Homo sapiens: one gene and its partners. The protein of the gene in region 1 purifies or fractionates together with the protein of each later gene. This does not show direct contact. Each region holds a gene or a part of one and is shown in the gene's direction. Other genes may lie near its edges.

Evidence for each region.
Region 2: the proteins of UPP1 (region 1) and TANGO6 purify together in Homo sapiens (affinity purification with mass spectrometry; one large-scale study listed by BioGRID and IntAct). This does not show direct contact.
Region 3: the proteins of UPP1 (region 1) and RIC8B purify together in Homo sapiens (affinity purification with mass spectrometry; one large-scale study listed by BioGRID and IntAct). This does not show direct contact.
Region 4: the proteins of UPP1 (region 1) and CTPS2 purify together in Homo sapiens (affinity purification with mass spectrometry; one large-scale study listed by BioGRID and IntAct). This does not show direct contact.
Region 5: the proteins of UPP1 (region 1) and MTUS1 purify together in Homo sapiens (affinity purification with mass spectrometry; one large-scale study listed by BioGRID and IntAct). This does not show direct contact.
Region 6: the proteins of UPP1 (region 1) and RPAP1 purify together in Homo sapiens (affinity purification with mass spectrometry; one large-scale study listed by BioGRID and IntAct). This does not show direct contact.
Region 7: the proteins of UPP1 (region 1) and CDA purify together in Homo sapiens (co-immunoprecipitation; one large-scale study listed by IntAct). This does not show direct contact.

What each region holds. Positions count from the first base shown.
Region 1 is NC_000007.14:48,102,765-48,106,264, forward strand, and holds part of UPP1 (uridine phosphorylase 1), read left to right. Parts: intron 1-532; coding exon 533-647; intron 648-1,017; coding exon of another isoform or gene 1,018-1,097; exon of another isoform or gene 1,098-1,503; intron 1,504-3,500. UniProt on the Homo sapiens protein: Catalyzes the reversible phosphorylytic cleavage of uridine to uracil and ribose-1-phosphate which can then be utilized as carbon and energy sources or in the rescue of pyrimidine bases for nucleotide synthesis.
Region 2 is NC_000016.10:68,927,031-68,930,530, forward strand, and holds part of TANGO6 (transport and Golgi organization protein 6 homolog), read left to right. Parts: intron 1-537; coding exon 538-1,053; intron 1,054-3,207; coding exon 3,208-3,265; intron 3,266-3,500.
Region 3 is NC_000012.12:106,777,682-106,781,181, forward strand, and holds part of RIC8B (chaperone Ric-8B), read left to right. Parts: intron 1-3,500.
Region 4 is NC_000023.11:16,699,170-16,702,669, reverse strand, and holds part of CTPS2 (CTP synthase 2), read left to right. Parts: intron 1-3,500. UniProt on the Homo sapiens protein: Catalyzes the ATP-dependent amination of UTP to CTP with either L-glutamine or ammonia as the source of nitrogen. Constitutes the rate-limiting enzyme in the synthesis of cytosine nucleotides.
Region 5 is NC_000008.11:17,752,595-17,756,094, reverse strand, and holds part of MTUS1 (microtubule-associated tumor suppressor 1), read left to right. Parts: intron 1-133; 5' UTR 134-287; coding exon 288-2,378; intron 2,379-3,500. UniProt on the Homo sapiens protein: Cooperates with AGTR2 to inhibit ERK2 activation and cell proliferation. May be required for AGTR2 cell surface expression. Together with PTPN6, induces UBE2V2 expression upon angiotensin-II stimulation.
Region 6 is NC_000015.10:41,530,758-41,534,257, reverse strand, and holds part of RPAP1 (RNA polymerase II-associated protein 1), read left to right. Parts: intron 1-3,055; coding exon 3,056-3,235; intron 3,236-3,500. UniProt on the Homo sapiens protein: Forms an interface between the RNA polymerase II enzyme and chaperone/scaffolding protein, suggesting that it is required to connect RNA polymerase II to regulators of protein complex formation.
Region 7 is NC_000001.11:20,595,597-20,599,096, forward strand, and holds part of CDA (cytidine deaminase), read left to right. Parts: intron 1-3,500. UniProt on the Homo sapiens protein: This enzyme scavenges exogenous and endogenous cytidine and 2'-deoxycytidine for UMP synthesis.

The sequences.
Region 1 (3,500 bases):
TCTGAAGAGGAGAGCAGGAGAAGGAGGTATGCAGAGACCCCAAAGAGAGGAAAAGGCACAGGCAGACAAGATCAGCAAAGCATCCTGTGTCCAGTGGGCTGAGGAACCAGCTGATTACTTAGTTTGTCTGAAGCAGAGGGTGTAGGGAGAAAAGAGAAAGGAGATAAAACTTTAACCTGTGGTGGGGTGTGGGAGAATAGGGTGGGTATTTATGCAGGGCTTCAAATGCTAGAAGGAGCTGTTTGTTACCTGGCAATAGCAGACTGCTGCTTCCCTGCTGAGCCCCTGGGTCCGCAGCTGTTACCTATTTGACAAATTGTGTCGATCAAATGGGGTTTTGTCTTTGACAGCTTTGCATACACTTTAAAGTTTCCCAAAGTGTTACTAGTTCTTAAATTTATATTTAAAAAGTTTATCTTTCATCACTATGTCAATGGGCATGTTAGATTGAATTACATCACATGAAACATCAGCCAGAACATTGACAAAGTCACAACCTTGGCTTAACATGGGTGTTTCTCCCTGGTTCCAGCATGGTATGGGCATTCCTTCTATCTCAATCATGTTGCATGAGCTCATAAAGCTGCTGTACTATGCCCGGTGCTCCAACGTCACTATCATCCGCATTGGCACTTCTGGTGGGATAGGTAAGGTCTGCAGAGGGGCCTCTTGCCCTGTGAATGGATGAGGGACTGGGGCATGCCAAGGCAGCTTCTACATGGTGTGGCATTAGAGACAAAGAGTTCCTTTCTTGGCTTTGTTCAAGGGAAGCTTGTTAACAGGAGGTGTGAAAAGAAGCTTGTTTTGTTGTTTTTGTCCAACCTGTTCTCCCAACCCGCACCCCAGAGCTAGGCAGTAGAAGGGCACCACACCATGCATATGGGGGAAACTCATCCTTTTGGGGTTACACAATTTGTGCCTTCTTGTCTGCTTGATTCTGTCTTATTCTTTCTAATCCCCCTTCTTCTCCATTCTCTCCTTTCCTTTGCTTACTTTTCCTCCTCCCTAATCCTGCAGGGATTTTGAAGCACCTTAGGAGAAAAGACACAGGAAAATCAAAGGGGGGAAGAGAGAGGCGCAGTACAAAACTCAGATAAGTGTCCTTAAATTAGCTTAAAATGTCCCTATCCTCAACAGGGACATTTTTTTTTTGTTTAAAAAACAAAGATGGTTGGCCGGGCGCGGTGGCTCACACCTGTAATCCCAGCACATTGGGAGGCCGAGGCGGGCGGATCACAAGATCGGGAGATCGAGACCATCCTGGCCAACATGGTGAAACCCCGTCTCTACTAAAATACAAAAGATTAGCTGGGCGTGGTGGTGCACGTCTGTAGTCCCAGCTGCTGGTGAGGCTGAGGCAGGAGAATCGCTTGAACCCGGGAGGCGGAGGTTGCAGTGAGCCAACATCGCGCCACTGCACTTCAGCCTGGCAACAGAGCGAGACTCCATCTCAACAACAACAACAACAAACAAACAAACAAAAACCCCCACAAACATGGCAAAGAAAGAATGAGATTTAATGAGAAAGCAAAAGCTAACAAATTGTTGAATTGTAAGCCAAAGTCTGTTAGGCAGATTTGTTTTAAATACGTGGTCTTGCTCTCTGGGGTTCCAACTCTGTGCCATTCTTTCTGCTAAAAACTGGGTTCTAGTGATTCCTGCTCCCACCGAGGTGTTCAGAGCTCAGGGAAGAAGCCTGCATGTGCCCTAGAGAAAGTTGAGCTTTGCCGCTGCTGGCCAGGCCTGTGTGTACTTGTTCCAGGCTGTCTAGGGCCTGGACTATCTAGGATTTATAGCAATTCTAGAATTTAAGTGTCCTGACCTTGAAAGGGGACTTGCTTTAGACCCAAATATTTTGAATATGTTATCTTGTCTCTTTTCTTTTTGTTATATAGAGAGATTGATGCATAAAATCTGTGTTTGTATGACTGTAATTCCAAGTTTAGCGAAATTGTCCCTAGGACAACACACCAACGGCCATGAGCTGTCTCGGTCCTGCAAGCTTAGTCTCCGATGCTGCCCACCTGACACAGCTGTGCATAGCATGCTGGCCTCTGCCAGGAACTCTAGTGAATGGTTCTTGAGTTCTTGCTCTGGAGTGATTTTTAAAACAATGATCAGATAATTCTGGAGGGAGTAGTATAGATTTTGAATTTTCCTCAATTGCTCTGTAAAAATGGAAAGAGCAACTAGGGAGCAAAACCAAAAACCACTGGACACAGTTGATAATAAAAGGTGATGTGCTATCCTCACAAACCCCAAAGTATGAATGGGTGGAGACAAAAAGCCTCAGGATCTGGTTGTGTTGGCAGCTGCTCAGGGGGAAGCTCAAGGCGATGGACAGACCTGAGAACAAGAGTCCCAGGCACTCCTAGGAAGGTGCAGGGGGACATGGTGAAGATGGCAGCTGACACTGGAGGGGGCCTGTGCGTCCCAATGTGAGTGATGCTGGAATTCCAAGGGGCTTGACCACTCCAGGCCCTGTGGGTTCACCAAGGCATCAGCCAAGCTCTCCTCTAGCTCCAGCCCCAGTGCTGGGAGAAGCTGCTGAAATGAGACTCTGAATTGCCCAGAACAGCCGCAGGAGTAGCAATGGAAAGAGGAGTTCAGATACATGTGGGGAGCGAAGCAAAGGTCTTTGCAATCGGCCATGTTTTTTAATGTTTCATGAAAACAACTGACTTGGGAGCTCTGGAAAAGATCTGACTTCTTGTTCCCTCCCACATGTTTAGGAAAACCAATTTTGCATTAAAATAAGTATCAGAAATGGATCATAGTTATCTTAGTCCCTGCAGGTTGATAGACAAGATGCCATTGACTGAGTGGCTTATAAACAATAGGAATTTATCGCGTAGTCTGGAGGCTGCGAAGTCCAAGGTCAAGGAGTCAGCAAACTTGGTGTCTGGTGAGGGCTAACTTTCGGATTCATAGAGCTCTGTTTTCTCCCTGTGTGCTCACATGGCAGAAGGGGCAGGCAGCTCTCCGGGGTCCCTCTTATAAGGGCACTAATCCCACTCATGCAGGCTCCACCCTCATGACCTAATCACCTCCCAAAGGCCCTGCTGCCTGAAACCATCACATTTAGGGTTAGGATTTCAGCCTATGAATTTTGAGGGGGAAACCAGCATTCAGTCCAGGTCCATAACAATGGTCAAATCCCATCTAAAATTATTATAACACAAAGAATAAGGGGCAGAGTAATGTCCCTACAAACAGGAAACTACTCCAGGAAGGCACGCCCAGAACATAGAAACTGGACCCTAATAATGCATCAATCTGAGAGGAAGGCCAGGTAGGTCAGGAGTTGGTCATAGCTCACCTGGGTTTAGGGTGTGGGACTTCATTATACTGTTCTAGTCTGCCTTTTGCTGGTTTACTTTTCAAGTATTTGCCTGAAATCTTAAATATTAACAAGGTATGAAACAGGGATCAATGAAACACATCATGGTATATGGTTCAGTGACAGACAACAGTGGGAAATCGCCGTGAATGGAAGCAAG
Region 2 (3,500 bases), on another chromosome or scaffold:
ATTTTCACTTCCACTTTCCAGAAGAAATCCCTTTCTTCCCGTTTTCTCTGTGATCCCTTCCAGATCTATGGTGCACTTGCATACTGACTGGCCACTTTAGATCATGTAGTTAAGAACAGCCTTATCTTTTCAAGGGAGACTGCGTAGGGTATTGGGTGAGAGTGTGGGCTCTGATCCCAGTTTCTTGAGTTCACATCTTACTATCTTCCAGTCTGTGACCTTGGGCATGTTACTTAACCGTTCTGTTTCCACCTGTTTAAAATGTAGATAATAATAGTCATTATATCACAAGGATATGAATGTGTGTGTGTGTGTTTTATCTTAGAAAAGAACCTGTATATGATAAGTGTTCAATAAATGTTAGGTATGATTATTCAACAAATGGTATTCAGTGCTGGACCCAGGCAATACACTGATTACACCATGAGCAAGATTTGATCCCTGCCCTTTTTTCTCAGAATATGTTTCCTGGTGCTCAGGTCATATTGAAATTTGCTATGTTAATTTGGGTTTGACATTTTTTATTTCATTTTGTAGTTGAAGTCAAGTGATTTTGCTGTTCTGAAGCAGTTGTTGCCTCTGTTGGAGAAGGTATCCAACACATACCCTGATCCGGTCATCCAAGAACTCGCTGTTGATCTCCGCATCACCATCTCTACCCATGGAGCCTTTGCCACTGAGGCCGTCAGCATGGCTGCCCAAAGTACACTGAACAGAAAAGATCTGGAAGGGAAAATAGAAGAGCAGCAACAAACCAGTCATGAAAGACCCACTGATGTAGCTCATAGCCACCTTGAACAACAGCAGAGCCATGAGACAGCCCCCCAGACAGGCCTGCAGTCAAATGCTCCAATCATTCCTCAAGGAGTCAATGAGCCCAGCACTACTACAAGTCAGAAATCTGGAAGCGTAACCACAGAACAGCTCCAAGAGGTTCTTTTGTCAGCTTATGACCCTCAAATTCCAACACGGGCTGCTGCCCTGCGTACTCTTTCCCACTGGATAGAGCAGAGAGAAGCAAAAGCCCTTGAGATGCAAGAGAAGCTTCTCAAGGTGAGTAGAACACACTGTAAAGACACATGGGCACAGGGTGGGGCATTCATTCAACTCAAGTATTTTTGGAGCCTGGACTATGTGTCAAGTGCTGTTCTGGACCACCCTCCAGAAATTTGTGAATTTTGTGAGGAGGCAACACTTAGACACAGGAAAGATTTATTTAGACACAGGAAAGACTTAAACTCCTCAAATGAATATGAACTGAGTGCCAATTTTTTTTTTTTTTTTTTTTTTTTGAGATGGAATCTCGCTCTGTCCCCCAGGCTGGAGTGCAGTGGTGCAATCTCGGCTCACTGCAAGCTCCGCCTTCTGGGTTCACACCATTCTCCTGCCTCAGCCTCCCGAGTAGCTGGGACTACAGGTGTCTGCCACCACCCCCGGCTAATTTTTTGTATTTTTAGTAGAGACGGGCACCATGTTAGCCAGGATGGTCTCGATCTCCTGACCTCGTGATCCACCTGCCTCGGCCTCCCAAAGTGCTGGGATTACAGGCGTGAGCCACCACACCCATCCTTCAAAATTTTTGCATGCAAGAAATGCTGTGGGCAGTCAGGAAAAAGAGAAAGTTGAAATCTTCTGGAGGATGTAGGCCTTAATATGGCCATAACAAACTAGTAAAGTTTGAGCAGATGAAAGAGGGGTGGGATAGCTTGAACAAATTCCCAGAGATGGGAAAGTACCTTTTGTGATAAATAGGTCTGCTTCAACACTGTGACCCAGCCCAGATAAGCCACCTGTTTTCTCTGGGCATCTTTAGTGGGGCGTTGGGCAAAACTGGGTCTCCTCCCCTCTTCTCTCCCTTCATCGTGGTGAAATAGCTGTTTTTTGTTTTGTTTTGTTTTGTTTTTTTGAGACAGGGTCTCGCTCCGTCGCCCAGGCTGGAGTGCAGTGGTGCGATCTCAGCTCACTGCAATTTCCACCTCCTGGGTTCAAGTGATTCTTCTGCCTCAGCCTCCCAAGTAGCTGGGATTACAGGTGCCCACCAACACACCCAGCTAATTTTTGTACGTTTAGTTGAGATGAGGTTTCACCATGTTAGCCAAGCTGGTGTTGAACTCCTCACATCAAGTGATTCACCTGCCTCGGCCTCCCAAAGTGCTGGGATTACAGGCATGAGCCACCGCGCCTGGCCTTAAATATCCTTTTATACACCTATTTGAAGGTGAATTCAATGAACATCTTGGAATTTTTTTTAGCTTAATTAAACCTTCTTCTGCTGTACATAATTGGTCACCAAGTCCTGTCAATTCTTTTTTCAAAGAAGTCTTTCAAATGTATCTTATCCTCTTTATTTCCATGGCCATTACCCTAAATTAAGCTTCCCTTGCTTACTCCATAAAAGATTCCCTACCTTCAAAACTGGCCGTCTTCCTAACTGGGGTAATTTTAGGCTCTCCGTACATACTTCACATGTAGAGACCAGCAGCATCAAGTTGATGTCAAGAATTACTGTGCCAACGAAGAACACAGCATTATATATGGAGCAGACACTTCCGTCTTCCTTTCTCTGGCTCTCATGTTGGGGCCTAAACCTAACATATCATGTAATATCTTCCAGATAAGCTGTACTCACTGTAGTTGATACCCCTGATAGGTTCCTAAATTGTAAGATATTTTGAGAGTAATTTGTTACTAATATCAATTAAAGTGCTGAAATTTACAAGATTTTCAAAAATAAATTAGAACAGATTCAAAGTTATCTCAATAATAACATCTCTATCTCACTTGCACTTCCATATGCTTTGTGAGTACAAGAGAAAAGGATCAAATTGCAGCAAATGTGCCATCCATTGCACATAACCCCAAACCTTGTCTCTTGTGTGTCACACCCCGTAGTCTGTCATGCCATATGTGAGAATGTTATTCACCATGGCTGTCATGGAAAAATGTTGAGGATTGTTCTTCCATCGGTTTCCAGGACTACTGCTGGAAGAATACAAGTATCTCCCCCAGTCTCTATACTTTTTTAATGGTTATAAAAATGAGACTTAAGCATATATGCCATTTCCCCCACAAAACTCTGTCAGACCAGTTTCTACCCAAGAAAAACAAGAAGCGAAGCATTTACTCCTTTGAGCTGCTGATAAGGGAGCCTCTTAAATCTTCCTTGTTCTTTGTAAATCTTATCACTGCTGTATTTTGTGGTTCCAGATATTCTTGGAAAACTTGGAACATGAAGACACTTTTGTATATCTATCTGCAATTCAGGGTAAGTCAGTCCTGGTTAAAGGACTTTAAGTATGTGGACCAGAGACTGTATCATGTTTATTTGCACAAAATCTCTAAAGTCCTAGGGCCAGGAGACTACTGGTCATTTTGTCCGTCTTCCTGCCTCCTAGCTAGGACACTTTAAGTCATAATAATAATATTCCTGAAGGGTTTCCAAAGAGTCCCTATAGAGTTTCAGTGTCTCATAATGATGAGGAAGTTTTTATTAATGTTTA
Region 3 (3,500 bases), on another chromosome or scaffold:
CATTTATTAGCTTTATGACTATGGATAAATTATATTAAGCCTGTGAGTCTCAGTTGCCTTACCTGTAAAATAGGGATAATATCACCATTCTCTTAAATTATTGTGAGGATTACATTAAATGAAATATAATGCCAACACTGGGCACAATGCACCTAGGAAGCACTCAGTAAGTTACAGTTATAATGACCAGGGTACCTAAGAGGTGTGGCCGGAGCACAGGTTCTGTAGCCAGCCTGGCTATGATCCTCAACTTAATGGCTTGTGTGACCCTAAACGAGTTACTTAACTTTGCTGTGGCTTAGTTTCCTCATCTGCCAAATGGAGATAATAATAGTAACTATATCATAGATTTGTTGTCAGGATTAAATGAGTTACATGTGTAAAGCACACAGAACAGTGCCTGCCACTGAGGAGGCACCCCATAACTGTTAGCTTTGAACAAAAAAATTAAACGTGGCATGAGTTGGGATAGCACGATATTAAAATTTGGGAATATGCTCCATTCTTCCCCTTCTTTTTCTAATGGGTAGCAAAATTGTACCTTGTACCGCTTTTAGAGATACCTGTCGGGCTCCGGGAAACATCTAATTTCTACTGTGTTATATAGATTCTCATTTCCAAGCCTTCTTGCTTCATTCACTGACCTTTGTTATCTTGGAGAGAGGAAATATGTATCTATCCCAGAAAGAATGAAACTTGTCTGTTTGTCAAGGGCATGACACAGCATAGGTCTCAGCATAGGCAAGTTTTTTTGTTTGTTTGTTTGTTTAATGGGAGGAGCAGTTGTTTTTCTCTCCTCTCAATGCACCTGTTAACATTTATTGAGTGCCTGCTATGTACTATGTATTATCCCAAGCATTTTCACATTTCGTATGTCATCTTATATTAATTCCTCTTATATTAATCCTCTTATATTAAAACTTATGAGGGAGATGGAAGTATTCTATATACAGGCTCAAGGTCACATAGCTAAGAAATGGCAGACCTGGTCTTCAGATTCCATATCCAGGGATCTTTTTGCAGGGCTATGTTGCCTTTACCCTGTCTCTTCTGTGTTTTTGAGCACAGAAAAAGTTTCTTTTTCAGGAGTGGTATACTACGGTTATTCCTCAATATCCAAAGGGGATTGCTTCCAGGATCTCCTGTGGATACCAGAATCTGTGGATACCAAAATCTTCTAATGCTTTAGTCCCTGATAGAAAACACCATAGTATTTGCATATAATCTGGGCACACCCTCCATTTTTTTGAGATGGAGTTTTGCTCTTGTTGCCCCAGGCTGGAGTGCAATGGCGCGATCTCGGCTTATCATAACCTCTGCCTCCTGGGTTCGAATGATTCTCCTGCTTCAGCCTCCTGAGAAGCTGGGATTACAGGCATGCATCACCATGCGCGGCTAATTTTGTATCTTTAGTAGAGACGGGGTTTCACCATGTTGGTCAGGCTGGTCTCGAATTTCCGACCTCAGGTGATCTGCCCGCCTCGGCCTCCCAAAGTGCTGGGATTATAGGCGTGAGCCACTGAGCCTGGCTGGGCATATCCTCCTATATACATTTTTTTTTTTTTTTTGAGACAGAGTCTCATTCTGCCGCCCAGGCTGGAGTGCAGTGGCTTGATGTCGCCTAACTGCAGCCTCCGCCTCCCAGGTTCAAGCGATTCTCCTGCCTCAGCTTCCTGAGTAGCTGGGACTACAGATGTGTGCCACCATGCCTGGCTAATTTTTGTATTTTTAGTGGAGACAGGATTTCACCATGTTGGCCGGGCTGGTCATGAACTCCTGACCTCAAGTGATCCACTCACCTGGGCCTCCCAAAGTGCTCTGATTACAGGCATGAGCCACTATGCCTGGCCTCTCCTATATACTTTAATCTCTAGATTACTTATAATACGTAATACAATGTGAATGGTATACAAATAGTTGTACTGTATTATTTAGGGAATAATGCCAAGAAGAAAAAAAAAAGCCTGCACTTGTTCAACACAGACACACACAAAAAAAAATTTTTTTTTTTTTTTTTCAGATATTTTCAAGCCATTGTTGGTTGAATCCACAGATACAGAATCCTTTGGCTACTGTTGGGTCCTAATCACCTCAACTTTAGTTATAGAATGAACTGTTAATTTGGGGAATTATGTATCATTCCAGTCTAGACTGTTCAAGCTCTTGCTCCCCCACGGGGGCCTGTTCTTTTTTTTTTTTTTTTTTTTTGTGTGTGTGTGTGTGTGTAGAGTTGGGGGTCTCACCATGTTGCCTAGGCTGGTCTTGAACTTCTGGGCCTCAGCCTCCCAAAGTGCTGAGATTACAGGCATGAGGCACAGTGCCCAGCCCTCAGGACTTCTCTAATAACACATTTAGTAGAGAGATTAGTTGCCATCATTATCATGATTATCAACAACAAACTGTGACTAAGGGCCCTGAGGTATGGAGTAGTATCATGATTCTTTACATCGCAGGCTATTTATGTTAGAGGAGCCTCAAAGATAATAGGGCCCAACCCCCTCGTTTAATAGATGACTCATCAACTATGATGATAACCAGAGACGTGGCTTGGTGGCCCTGCAGGCCACCTGGACATATGACTACCCCATACATAGCAAATTCCAGCAGCATTCCAGTTTTGAAGTATGGCAAGTTTTTGGCCAAATGAAAGGTATTTAAGATACAGACAGATAGGTAGGTCTCTAGTAGTAGTCCTCTTAGGAGAAGAAAACAAGACTGCTGGCAGTGAGGTCTTCATTCATGTGCTAGAAGAACCTGATTCATAGAAACCTGATATTGGGACAGTTCTATAAATATAGCCTCTACATTTGAATAGAGTATGTAAATATCCAGGACCATGTAAGAGGACTTTTTGTTTTCTACTTTGGAAGTTGGGCTCTGACTCTTTGATTTCACTCTGTGGGTTCTTGCAGAGAAGCATGTTTAGTGGGCTGTTCCTTTGTTATACTTTGTTCTTATGTCCAGATTATGTTATATAATTTGTTTCTAATTTTTAGTTGTAGAAGCAATCTGTGTTCATGAAACAGCACAACATACACCACGCAATTAGGTTTATTCCCTTGTAGTAGTGCTGTTTGAGTGTATCTTTAGAAATCTATGAAATTATTCCTAGCTCTCTAATAGGTCAATATTTGGCCAGATGCCACACCATAGGTTATTCAACAATAACAGTAGTGGCCATTGAACACTACTGTGTGCAAGGTGCCATGCTTATAAAAAATAAGGAAAATTTGATAGGTAGTAAAGTTGAATAACTTGACCAAGTTTACACTTTTAGTAAACAGTAAGACTGGACTCAAACTCAAGGTTGTCTGACTCCTGATCCTGAGCTTTTTAGAGCTTATTCATGGAGTATGAAACCTGTAGTGAGAGTCCTCATAATAGTCTGGTGTGTCACTGAGCTGTTAGCTTGCTTGATCTCTAAATTGAACAATGGTTTAACTCTTTTTTTTTAAATGGGGTTTTATCGTGTTGCCCTGGCTGGTCTCAAACTCCTGGTC
Region 4 (3,500 bases), on another chromosome or scaffold:
AATTTCTTTAGGATGTAGTTCCAGATTTAGAGTGACTAGATCGTATGCTATGAATATGTGAATTTTCTCATGGTCATTGATACATTGTTCATACCTCTGATGACATTCCAAATTAATCATCCCTTTTGGAAACATTGTATCTTTTGCACTACAGATTCTGTTTTATTTTTAACATAAAGGTAGTGTGTTTCTCTTAACATTTCCCACTGCCTGGAGTAACTATTATTAATGGTGACATTTTGATGTATGAGTATATTTGATTTATTTTTAAAATGGCATTAGCCCTTACATGCTATTTTTAAAAAACTTTTTATAAGGCCCAGTGCGGTGGCTCATGCCTGTAATCCCAGCACTTTGGGAGGCCGAGGCAGGTGGATCACGAGGTCAGAAGATCGAGACCATCCTGGCTAACACAGTGAAACCCTGTCTCTACTAAAAATACAAAACATTAGCTGGGCGTGGTGGCACGTGTCTGTAGTCCCATCTACTCAGGAGGCTGAGACAGGAGAATCACTTGAACCTGGCAGGCGGAGGTTGCAGTGAGCCAAGATCGAGCCATTGCACTCCAGCCTGGGCGACAGAGCGAGACTCTGTCTCAAAACAAACAAACAAACAAACAAACAAAAACAACAAAAAACCAACCCCCAAAAAAACCTTTTTATATACAAGCAAAAAAGTGCATAAATCATAAGTGTACAGTTGGATGAATTTTCATTAAATGAACACACTGTGTAACCAGCCCCTGATCAAGAAACAGAAATGTTCATGTCCTGCCGGGCGTGGTGGCTCACGCCTGTAATCCTAGCACTTTGGGAGGCTGAGGCGGGCGGATCACGAGGTCAGGAGATCGAGACCGTCCTGGCTAACACGGTGAAACCCCGTCTCTACTAAAAATACAAAAATTAGCCGGGCGCGGTGGCGAGCGCCTGTAGTCCCAGCTACTCGGGAGGCTAAGGTGGGAGAATGGCGTGAACCCAGGAGGCGAACTTGCAGTGAGCCGAGATTGCGCCACTGCACTCCAGCCTGGGTGACAGAGTGAGACTCCATCTCAAAAAAAAAAAAAATGTTTGTGTCCCTTGTTGCTATCCTGTCTTCCTGTTTTTGTTTTTTGAGACAGGGTCTCACTCTATCGCCCAGGCTGGAGTGCAGTGGCCAAGATCTCGGCTCAATGCAACCTCCACCTCCTGTGCTCAAGTGATCCTCCTGCTTCAGTCCCCTGGGTAGCTGGGATTACAGGTGTGCACCACCACACCTGGCTAATTTATGTAATTTTTTTATAGAGCTGGGATTTCGCCATGTTACTTAGGCTGGTCTCGACCTCCTGGGCTCAAGCAATCCTCCTACCTCGGCCTCCCAAAGTGGTGGTATTACAGGCATGAGCCACTGCAACAGGCATGAGCCACTGCACCAGGCCTTGAATATCGTGTTTTAAACTTTACTAACCTGAGAATAAAACAAACAAAAAGAGGGTATCTTATTGTTTTAATTTAGAGTTCTTTGATTTTGATTTTGTTTGTGAATGACTTATTCAAGTCTGTGGTAGATTGTATTTTTGCTTCAAAATGTTACCCACCATCCCTCTGTGGAGTACATTTCCCTGCCCTTTGACCTTGGAGTTTGGCCACGTAGGATAGTTAACTTGTCCTGGTTTGTTTGGAATGTTCCTGATTTTAAAACAGAAAGTCCTGTGTCCTGGGAGCCCTCTTAGTCCTGGGCAAACCAAGCAGGTTGGTCACTCTATTTGGCCATGTGATTTATTTTGTCCTATGGGATGTTAGGGAATATTAACATATGCCTTGTTGAAGCAGAAAATGTCAAATGCATCTGTGTGGTTTGGCTCAGTCTGTCTTGTGCTTCTGCCCTCTACCATGAGAACAGCCTGGTTTTCAGAGATTTCTCGTTCAGTCTGGGTCCTGGAATGAGAAGACACAAAGAATAGACTCACAAGTGACTCATAGCCCCCATGTAACATGAGGGAGAAATAAATAAATGTTTTGTAAGTTGCAGAGATTTTGGGGTTGTTTGTTGTGTGGCACCATTGACTAATGCCATGTGTTACACCAAATTTTCTTTGGATTTTTTTTTAATGATTTTTTTTTTCTTTTTTTGAGACAGAGTCTCACTCTGTCGCCCAGGCTGGAGTGCAGTGGTGTGACCTCGGCTCACTGCAACCTCCGCCTCCCAGGTTCAAGCGATTCTCCTACCCAGCCTGGCAAACATGGCGAAACTCTGTCTCTATTTAAAAAAATAATAGGCCGGGCACGGTGGCTCACGCCTGTAATCGCAGCATTTTGGGAGGCTGAAGCAGGTGGATCACGAGGTCAGGAGATGGAGACCATCCTGGCCAACATGGTAAAAACCTGTCTGTACTAAAAATACAAAAAAATTAGCTGGGTGTGGTGGTGCACACCTGTAATCCCAGCTACTCAGGAGGCTGAGGCAGGAGAATTGCTTGAACCAGGGAGTCAGAGGTTGCAGTGAGCCGAGATCGCACCACTGCACTCCAGCCTGGCGATAGAGTGAGACCCTGTCTCAAAATAATAATAATAATAATAATGGTAATACAAAGATTAGCCAGGCGTGGTAGTACATGTCTGTAATCCCAGCTACTTGGGAAGCTGAGACATGAGAATTGCTTGGATCCAGGAGGCGGAGGTTGCAGTGAGCTGAGATCACGCCACTGCACTCCAGCCTGGTTGACAGCGAAACTCTGTCTCAAAAAAAAACATTGAAAAAAAAAATTGAAAAAAAAAGTATTGTGATATCAATTTGCTTTTTTCCTTAAAATTAATTTTCTAGACCACAGTTATGTACCTTAGAATGGATAAATAAATTAGGATATAAAAGGCTTCTGATTAAATTTGTAAGTTAATCAACCTTTTTTCCTGTGGACATCTAACAGTAGGAATAAATGATAGTTCCCTTAATAGGGGAAAGGTTCAATTCTTACAAGGTGGCTTTAGAAACATACGACTCTCAGTCCATGCCCTGAAGTGACAATAGAGATCTACAGACGTGTCTAGTAGTTAAAGTTGGTGCTCCTCGTGTGACGAAGTCTGCACCTGTCTTTTATGACAGTGCATTGTGCACGTAGCTTATGGCACACACAGGCTTTTTCCCTCACTTTCACCAAGTTGCCTTATGGGTTAGCTGTGGCCTTGCTTTGTCATCTACTGTCTAATTATGGCTTTAATCAAGATGAGAATCAAGTAAAAGTTTCTTATCGCAGTTCCAGAGTCCAGGATACTGATGCTTTGAAGTAAAATGCTGTTTGTTTTTAAAATTTCTGTTTTCATGTCTTTTTTATGTGGCATATGTTGAGTTTGGAAAAGCTAAATCTTGAAGACAGAATTTCAGTAGATTAAAAAAAAACCACAATAGAATATTATAAATAGAATTTTCTGATGCATTTTCTTGGATATAATTGAATTGTTAATATCTCCACCAAAAAGGAGATGGTGATAGAATATGGCTTACAAATACATCTTTTACCAGCTTTT
Region 5 (3,500 bases), on another chromosome or scaffold:
ACCCACATCAGTAGTTGTGGGGTCTAAATGTGAACATAAAGTGATTGAAACTAATCACTTAGTGATTGAAACCAAGGGGTGGCCTGTTAATTTTTCTTATAGTTACTTGAGTTAAACATTTTATTTCTTCCAGGGAACAACAAATCATTTAATCTTCAGAGCATCTTAGACTGAAAACCTTTCAACTGTGCTGAAAAACCTAGAAGACAGACCATTTTGCCCACCCTCTCATTTAAAAGGAATTGAAGAAGAAATAAAATGGCAGAGGTTTAAGGTTACTATTCAGGATGACTGATGATAATTCAGATGATAAAATAGAAGATGAATTGCAAACCTTCTTTACCAGTGATAAAGATGGAAATACACATGCATACAACCCGAAATCACCACCTACACAAAACTCTTCAGCCAGCAGTGTGAACTGGAATTCTGCCAACCCAGATGACATGGTGGTTGATTATGAAACTGACCCTGCTGTAGTTACTGGTGAAAATATTTCTTTAAGCCTTCAGGGTGTTGAAGTATTTGGTCATGAAAAGTCTTCTAGTGATTTCATTAGTAAGCAGGTGTTAGATATGCATAAAGATTCTATTTGTCAGTGTCCTGCACTTGTAGGTACTGAGAAGCCCAAATATCTGCAACACAGTTGTCATTCCCTAGAAGCAGTTGAGGGCCAGAGTGTTGAGCCATCTTTGCCTTTTGTGTGGAAGCCTAATGACAATTTGAACTGTGCAGGCTACTGTGATGCCTTGGAGCTAAACCAAACATTTGACATGACAGTGGATAAAGTTAACTGCACCTTTATATCACATCATGCCATCGGAAAGAGTCAGTCCTTCCATACTGCTGGAAGCCTGCCACCAACTGGTAGGAGAAGTGGAAGTACATCTTCTTTATCCTATTCCACTTGGACATCTTCCCATTCTGATAAGACGCATGCAAGAGAAACTACTTATGATAGAGAAAGCTTTGAAAACCCTCAAGTCACACCATCAGAAGCCCAAGACATGACTTACACAGCATTTTCTGATGTGGTGATGCAAAGTGAGGTTTTTGTTTCAGATATTGGAAATCAGTGTGCATGTTCTTCAGGAAAGGTCACCAGTGAGTACACAGATGGATCACAACAAAGACTAGTTGGAGAAAAGGAGACACAAGCACTAACACCAGTTTCTGATGGCATGGAAGTCCCCAATGATTCTGCATTACAAGAGTTCTTTTGTTTATCCCATGATGAATCCAATAGCGAACCACATTCACAGAGCTCATACAGGCACAAGGAAATGGGCCAAAATCTGAGAGAGACAGTGTCCTATTGTCTTATTGATGATGAATGCCCTTTAATGGTGCCAGCTTTTGATAAGAGCGAAGCTCAAGTGCTGAACCCAGAGCATAAAGTCACTGAGACTGAAGACACACAAATGGTCTCCAAAGGAAAGGATTTGGGAACCCAAAATCATACCTCAGAATTGATTCTAAGTAGCCCGCCAGGACAAAAGGTGGGCTCGTCATTTGGACTGACTTGGGATGCAAATGATATGGTCATTAGCACAGACAAAACGATGTGCATGTCAACACCAGTCCTAGAACCCACAAAAGTAACCTTTTCTGTTTCACCGATTGAAGCGACGGAGAAATGTAAGAAAGTGGAGAAGGGTAATCGAGGGCTTAAAAACATACCAGACTCGAAGGAGGCACCTGTGAACCTGTGTAAACCCAGTTTAGGAAAATCAACAATCAAAACGAATACCCCAATAGGCTGCAAAGTTAGAAAAACTGAAATTATAAGTTACCCAAGACCAAACTTCAAGAATGTCAAAGCAAAAGTTATGTCTAGAGCAGTGTTGCAGCCCAAAGATGCTGCTTTATCAAAGGTCACGCCCAGACCTCAGCAGACCAGTGCCTCATCACCCTCATCAGTGAATTCAAGACAACAAACAGTCTTGAGCAGAACACCGAGATCTGACTTGAATGCAGACAAAAAAGCAGAAATTCTAATTAACAAGACACATAAGCAGCAGTTTAATAAACTCATTACTAGCCAGGCTGTGCATGTTACAACTCATTCTAAAAATGCTTCACACAGGGTTCCAAGAACAACATCTGCCGTGAAATCGAATCAGGAAGATGTTGACAAAGCCAGTTCTTCTAACTCAGCATGCGAGACCGGGTCCGTTTCTGCGTTGTTTCAGAAGATCAAAGGCATACTCCCTGTTAAAATGGAAAGTGCAGAATGTTTGGAAATGACCTATGTTCCCAACATTGATAGGATTAGCCCTGAAAAGAAGGGTGAAAAAGAAAATGGGACATCTATGGAAAAACAAGAGCTGAAACAAGAGATTATGAATGAGACTTTTGAATATGGTTCTCTGTTTTTGGTAAGTAATATATATATATTTTTTGCATGCTTCAGAGAACTGTGGAGAAAACTGAGATGTGTTAGCATTTAGTTATCTATTAGTCAATAATATTGCAGAACCAGGTGGGCAGATTTACATTTAGTTGTTAATTCATTGTCTTGTCAGTACTGGGGTGTTAATAGGTTTCAATACAACAAAACTGCATATGGAAAAAAAAATCCTCAATTTCAGTATTTTGTATCAAGTATCACCGTTCCTTTTAATAGTGTGCTGAAAAATGAAGTTACTTTAATATTTTAGTATAATTAGTAGTTTAAGTGCCTGATACAATCAGGTTATATTTTATTTTTCTGAAAAAGTTGGGTTGTCAACTTTAAAATGTATTGGACAGCATTTAAGAAAGGGCTTGGGAGTGCTGGTAAACATGTCAACATAAAAATAACTCCTGGACTCTTGCGGAGGAGGCAGCTCTGGGAAGTAGAGCCCTCTTGTATGAGCAAGAGTGTTCTTGATTTTTCCTCTGACCGGCCAATAATGATTTTTGGCAAGTAATTTTTCGAGACCCAAAGATGAAAGGATTGGACCTAGTGGATGTGTGAAGCCTCTTGCAGCCTTAATATATTAATTCCTGGTATATAAAATAAAATCTTTTACTTATGTATAGTGAAAAACCAGTATGTTTTCCATAGCGCCTGTCTAAAATATTTGGGGGGGACCTAGAGAGTGCTGTTTAAAGAATAAAGAATTCACATGCAGTGTAAAGGTGATTTTCCTTTAAACATGCATGTGTTTTTGAGAATAGTGTGTAGAAATTGGTTTTCTGGGTTTTAAAAACATTTGACAGGCCACTGTTGGTCGTTGGGCATGTGTCCTCAGCCCTATTTTTGGCAGTGGGGACTTAGGTGTATTTTCAGCCCCAGACAGGCTGTCCTTGGGTGCCTGTCCTCTGGGCCAGGAAGGGAGCTAAGTGCCAGCGGAGAAAGGCAGGTGTGACACAGACAGCCTGTCCCTTGGAGGGCTCGTGGCAAGAGGAATGAAGCACATAGAATAGCAAGTGCAGAAGGGCTGACTTAGGTGTGTCTTCAGGGTGCATGGGGACCACAAGGGAGGGAATTGTCAGGTCCGTTTAGAAGACAAGGT
Region 6 (3,500 bases), on another chromosome or scaffold:
TTAGTAGAGGTAGGGTTTCTCCATGTTGGTCAGGCTGGTCTCGAACTCCCAACCTCAGGTGATCTGCCCTCCTCGGCCTCCCAAAGTGCTAGGATTACAAGCATGAGCCACCATGCCCGGCCTTTTTTTTTTTTTGAGATGGAGTTTCGGTCTTGTTGCCCAGGTTAGAGTGCAATGGCGCGACGTAGGCTCACTGCAACCTCCGCCTCCTGGGTTCAAATGATTCTCCTGCCTCAGCCTCCTGAGTATCTGGGATTACAGGTGCCCACCACCATACCCAACTAATTTTTGTATTTTTAGTAGAGACGGAGTTTCACCATGTTGGCCAGGCTGGTGTCGAACTCCTGACCTCAGGTGATCCACTGGCCTTGGCCTCCCAAAGTGCTGGAGCCACTGCGCCTAGGTTTTTTTTTTTTTTTAAGACGGATTTTTCCTCTTGTTGCCCAGGCTGGAGTGCAATGGCGCAATCTCTGCTCACTGCAACCTCTGCCTCCCAGGTTCAAGCAATTCTCCTGTCTCAGCCTCCAAAGTAGCTGGGATTACAGGCGCCTGCCACCATGCCTGGCTAATTTTTTTATTTTTTGTATTTTTAGTAGAGACGGGGTTTCCCTGTATTGGCCAGGCTGGTTTCGAACTCTTGACCTCAGGTGGATCAAAGTGCCTCCCAAAGTGCTGGGATTACAGGTGTGAGCCACCGTGCCTGGCCCCCAGCGAATTTCTTTTAAGGTTTTTGTAGAGATGAGGTCTCACTATATTGCACAGGTTGGTTTTTGTTTTTTGTTTTTTGTTTTCAGAGTCTCCCTCTGTCACCCAGGCTGGAGTGGAATGGCACGATCTCGGCTCACTGCAACCTCTGCCTCCCAGGTTCAAGTGATTCTTGTGCCTCAGCCTTTTCAGCAGCTGGAATTAGAGGTGTGTACCACCATGCTTGGCTAATTTTTTTTATTTTCAGTAGAGATGGGGTCTCACCATGTTGGCCAGGCTAGTTTCGAACTCCTGGCATCAAGTGATCCACCGACCTCAGCCTCCCAAAGTGCTGGGATTACAGGCATGAGCCACCGTGCCTGACCTTTAATGCATTATTCAGTTCTGTCCTTAAACTTGTCCTGTGAGGTAGGTGGTATTAACCCTATTTTACTTATGAAAGAAACTGAGGCCTAAAATTTAAAAGAAATTCTACCCAGGTCACACACCTTATAAGAAGCACAGGACACAGGATTTAAACCCAGATCTACCTGGTCTCATATGCCCTGCTTTTTTTTTTTTTTTTTTTTTTTTTGAGACGGAGTCTCGCTCTGTTGTCCTGGGTGGAGTACAGTGACACGATCTCAGCTCACTGCAACCTGTACCTCCCTAGTTCAAGCGATTTTCCTGCCTCAGCCTCCTGAGTAGCTGGGATTACAGATGTGCACCACCACACCCAGCTAATTTTTTTGTATTTTTAGTAGAGATGGGTTTCACCATGTTGGCCAGGCTGGTCTTGAACTCCTGACCTCCAGCGACCCATCTGCCTCGGCCTGCTGAAGTGCTGCGATTTTTTTTTTGAGATGGTCACCGTGCCCAGCCGAGGCCCTACTTTTTAACCACTGTGCTATGTATAACTGTACTACCCTGGTATAGTATACACTATGCTTTATTATAGCTATACTCTAGTATATGTATAGTCTCTTCTACTCTGTGATACTGTTCTATGCTATGCCTCACCCCTAGTGTCTGTTCACCAAAATGCCAGGCACTCAGTCAATCTTGTTACCCACTGTATACTAGCACCTCTATAGAGTATAATACGTGTTAGGGCTCAGTATGGTGCCTTGCCCTGTAATTCCAGCACTTTGGGAGGTTGAGGTGAGAGGATTGCTTGAGGCCAAGAGTTTACGACCAGCTTGAGGAACATCATGAGACCCCATCTCTACAAAAAATAAAGATATAAAAAATTACAGCCAGGTGTGGAGGCTCACGCCTGTAATCCCAGCACTTTGGGAGGCTGAGGTGGGCGGATCACAAGATCAAGACATTGAGACCATCCTGGCCAACACGGTGAAACCCTGTCTCTACTAAAAATACAAAAATTAGCTGGGCGTGGTGGCACACGCCTGTAGTCCCAGCTACTCGGGAGGCTGAGGCAAGAAAATCACTTGAACCCGGGAGGCGGACCTTGCAGTGAGCCGAGATCGTGCCATGGCACTCCAGCCTGGGCGACAGAGTGAGACTCTGTCTCAAAAAAAAAAAAAAAAATTAGCCAGATATGGTGGTGCATGCCGGTAGTCCCAGTTACTTGGGAGGCTGAGGCGGGAGGATTGCTTGAGCCCAGGAGTTTGAGGCTGTGGTGAGCTACGATTGTGCCACTGCACTCCAGCATGGGTAACAGAGCAAGACCCTATCTCTTTAAAAATATATATTTACAGCCTGAGCAACATGGTAAAACCCCGTCTCTAGTAAAAATACAAAAATTAGCCAGGCGTGGTGGCAGGCACTTTTAATCCCAGCTACTCAGGAGGCTGAGGCAGGAGAATCCCTTGAACCTGGGAGATGGAGGTTGCAGTAAGTTGAGATTGCACCACTGCACTCCAGCCCGGGCGACACAGCGAGATTCCGTCTCAAAAAAAAAAAAAAAAAAAAAAAAAAAAAAATATATATATATATATATATATATATATGTGTGTGTGCATAAATAAATTAGCTAAGAGAAGGAAATTCTTTCTGTAAATGCCTTCTTTTTGGCCCTAGTCAACATTAACTTATTCATTCTACAGCCACTTACATTGGAACTGTGACCTGAAACCAAAGGGATAGGCATAGGAACCTGGGCCAGTGGACTGTGAGGGATAGAGGGAAAGGTGGGCAGGTGGGCAGGTGGGCCTAGTGACCCCACAGGTGTGAGAAGGCTGGGTCATTGATGGGCCACAGGAGCACCCAGAAGGCTCAGGCCCAGGCTCGGAAGCAGCTTGTCCTGTCCTTGGCACCCACAGACAGGCGATATTCAGCGGGTTCCAGGTCTGTAGGAGGCCAGGGAGGATCTACCCTCACTCACTCTCCCCTCTACCTTCGCCTCTAGACCCCAGCTTGGTTGCTTTCTTGAGATCTCACAGCCACACGCAAGAGCAAACAGGAGAGACAGCCTCTGAGGAGCAGAGGCCAGGAGGACCCTCTGCTAATGTCACCAAGGAGGAACCCCTCATGTCAGCTTTTGCCAGTGAGCCCAGGAAGAGAGACAAGCTGGAGCCAGAAGCCCCAGGTTTGCAGGAGGCGGGGGTCATATTTTGGTGGATAAAAGTAGGGGAAATTGTCCCTTTTCCTAGGCCTGGCAAATGAGAGAAGAGAGAAGCTTCTGTGCTTTTGGACATCTAACATTAATCCTCATTATTGGCTTCAAGTCAGTCTTCATTGCTGATGCATGTCTTCTTCCTGCACATGCTTCCTGTTTTCTTGTCCTGTTACTGCCCCTTCTCCGCCTTCCCTTTTAAGAGGCAGCAATGCGTGATGGCTGAATCCCACTCCAC
Region 7 (3,500 bases), on another chromosome or scaffold:
CAGTTAGTCCTCTCCACTGTCACTCAAAAGTGGCTCATTTTGTGACCAGCCTAGGCAACAGGGTGAAACCCCATCTCTACAAAAAATACAGAAATTAGCCAGGCGTGGTGGCACATGCCTAGAGTCCCAGCTACTCGGGAGGCTGAGGCAGAAGGATGGCCTGAGCCCCGGTGGTGGAGATTGCAATGAGCCGTGAGCACGCCACTGCACTCCAGCCCAGCCCGGGCAACAGAGCAAGACTCTCTCAAAAAAAAAAAAAAAAAAAAGGCCAGGCACGGTGGCTCATACCTGTAATCTCACTCAGCACTTTGGGAGGCTGAGGTGGGTGGATCACCTGAGGTCAGGAGTTCAAGACCAGCCTGGCCAATATGGTGAAACCTCGTCTCTATTAAAAATACAAAAATTAGCCAGGCGTGGTGGCAGGCGCCTGTAATCCCAGCTGCTCAGGAGGCTGAGGCAGGAGAATCGCTTGAACCTGGGAGGCGGAGGTTGCAGTGAGCTGAGATCGCACCATTGCACTCCAGCCTGGGTAACAAGAGTGAAACTCCATCTCGAAAAAAAAAATTGTCTCATTACATAGGCAAGCTTTACTACAGTCCCTCGACTAAATAGCTGAGTTCGAATATAATTCATACCTGAAATGGTGCATTTGCAGTGGGAGGAGGTTAGGAACATGGAGAGAGTGTCGTATTTCTTCAAGTATATGGACAGAACATTCCTCACGTGATTCTCAAACGTGGTCCCAGAACTGCAGCCTCAGCAGCTCCTGGGAACTTGTGAAAATTTGAAATTTTTGAGCTCCAACCCAGCCCAGACCTATTGAATCAGAAACTCCAGGAAAGAGGCTTACAAGTGTGTTTTAAGAAGCCCTCTACTCAGGAGGCAAAGGCAGGAGGATTGCTTGAGTCCAGGAGTTCAAATTCCAGCTGGGCAACTAATAACAAGACCCTGTCTCTAAAAAATATAAAAATAAATAAATTTAAAAAGAGAAGCCCTCCAAAACATTCTGATGCCCACTTGCTTGAGTGTGAGAATACTGCTTTAATCTTGCTAGGATCCCTCAGAAAAGAGAGTGGGTGCAGTGCTTTCTGGCATTATTCTTTTCTCTGGGTGGCTGGGCCCAAATAGCCTCATTGTGAGCTTCTTTCCCTGTTGATGTCTTTTTTTTTTTTTTTTTTTTTTGAGACAGGATCTCACTCTGTTGCCCAGTCTGGAGTTCACTGGCACAATCTCAGCTCACTGCAGCCTCGACCTTCCTGGCTCAGGCGATCCTCCCACCTTAGCCTCCCAAGTAGCTGAGATCACAGGCATGCACCACCATGCCTAGCTAATTTTTAAAATTTTTTGTAGAGACTGGGTTTTGACATGTTGCCCAGGCTAGTCTCGAACTCCTGGACTCAAACAATGCACCCACCTCAGCCTCTAAAAGTACTGGGATTACAGGCGTGAGCCACCACACTCAGTCTTGCTGATGTCTTAATAACATCTGACCGCAGCCCTGCCTTAAGCACCAAACCACCTCAAAACATGGCCTTCCTTCCTGCAAGGCCATAGAGAATAAGAAGAGTCTGGCCGGGCGCCGTGGCTCACATCTGTAATCCCAGCACTTTGGGAGGCCAAGGCAGGTGGATCATGAGGTCAGAAGATCAAGACCATCCTGGCTAACATGGTGAAACCCCATCTCTAATAAAAATACAAAAAAAATTAGCCGGGTGTGGTATGCAATCACAGCTACTTGGGAGGCTGAGGCAGGAGAATGGCGTGAACCTGGGAGGCGGAGCTTGCAGTGAGCCAGGATCGTGACACTGCACTCCAGGCTGGGCGACAGAGCGAGACTCCGTCTCAAAAAGAAAAAAGAAGAGTCCATCGTATCTCACAGGCCAGGATGCATGTTTTGGCCTCCTGCCACCAGCCTTCACTTTTACCTTCTGTAAAATGGTGTTCTAACAGTATTTACCTTACCCAACAGTTAAAAGGATTAACTGACCTTATGCAGGTAAAGCACTCCACAGAGTGCCTGGCCTATGAGTGCCCAGTAAAAGAAAGCAATTAGTAATACTGGCACTATGATCGTAGTATTATTTGGTCCTATCTTATTATTATGGATTTCTAACTTAGCACCATCCCAATCTCTCTCATGTATGTTTTGAAGTAAGCAAAGGCAATAGCAGAAACAGAATTGGTTTGCCTGGTCAGAAGACAGCCTGCTTTCTGGGCTGAGAGAAGCAAAACAAAATTGCACAGCATTTCAGGATGCAGTACGTGGGCAAAGGCTTCCTTCCTTTTTTTTTATTTGCCTTTTTTTTTTTTTTTGAGCTAGAAAATTCAAGGAAATTACTTGAATTTGTTACAGGCTCCAAATACAGTTATTCCTCTGCGTCTTAAGCATCTAGAACTGAAGTGGAAAATTCCACTCTTTCAATAATGGTTAGCCATCTTAGCTCAGGCCATGCTGTGGTTTGAAGGTTTGCCCCCTCCAAAATGCATAAGCGTACTTTGGAGGGCTTCTCTTTTCAAATTTATTATTTATATACACTTTTAGAGACAGGGTCTCGCTATGTTTAATTGCCAATGCAACAGTGTTGGGAGGTGGGACCTAATAAGAGGTGTTTAGGTCATGAGGGCTCTGCCCGGTGAGTGGATGAATACCGCTATAAAAAGGGCTTACAGTATGGATTCTCTCTCTTTCACTCTCCTGCCACATGAGGAATAGTGTTCCTCCCCTCCAGAGGATGCAATGTTCAAGGCGCCATCTTGGAAGCTGAGACTGGGTCCTCACTAGACACCAACTTGCCAACAGCTTGACCTTGGACTTCCAAGCCTTCAGAATTATGACAAATAAATTTCTGTCCTTTATAAATTACCTAGTCTGGGATATTACGTTACAGCAGCACAAAACGGACTAAAACAGGCTGCTATAACAAAATACCATAGACTAGTGGTTTAAACAGCAGACATTTATTTCTCACAGTTCTGGAGGCTGGGAAGTCCAAGATTCAGTTCTTGGCGAGGGCCCTCTTTCTGACTTGGCCATTTTCTCACTATGCCCTGACAGGATGGAGAGAGAGAGTTTAAGAGTCTCTTCTTCTTCTTATAATAGCACTAATCCCATCATGGGGGCTGCCCCCTCACGACCTAATCTAAACCTGGTTATCTCACAAATGCCCCACCTCCTAATAGTATAGCGTTGAGGGTTAGGACTTCAACAGAAGAATTTTAGGGAGACACAAACATTCAATCCATAAGAGAAACTGAGAGCCCCATGACTTCACTGTTCCAGGCCCAGGACATACCACAACACATGTTAGAGACAAAATCTCTGCCCTCAGAAAGTTTGTAATATAATAGGAGGAATTAGATAATAAAGACATTTATTTCAGGAGACTGTTAAGTGCTATGAAGAAAATTAAAGCAGGAGAAATGGATACAGAGAGTTGGAGGCAGTAGTGGGAGGAAGCCATTTTAGATAGGTGATCGGAGAAAGCGTCTCTGAGAAGGTG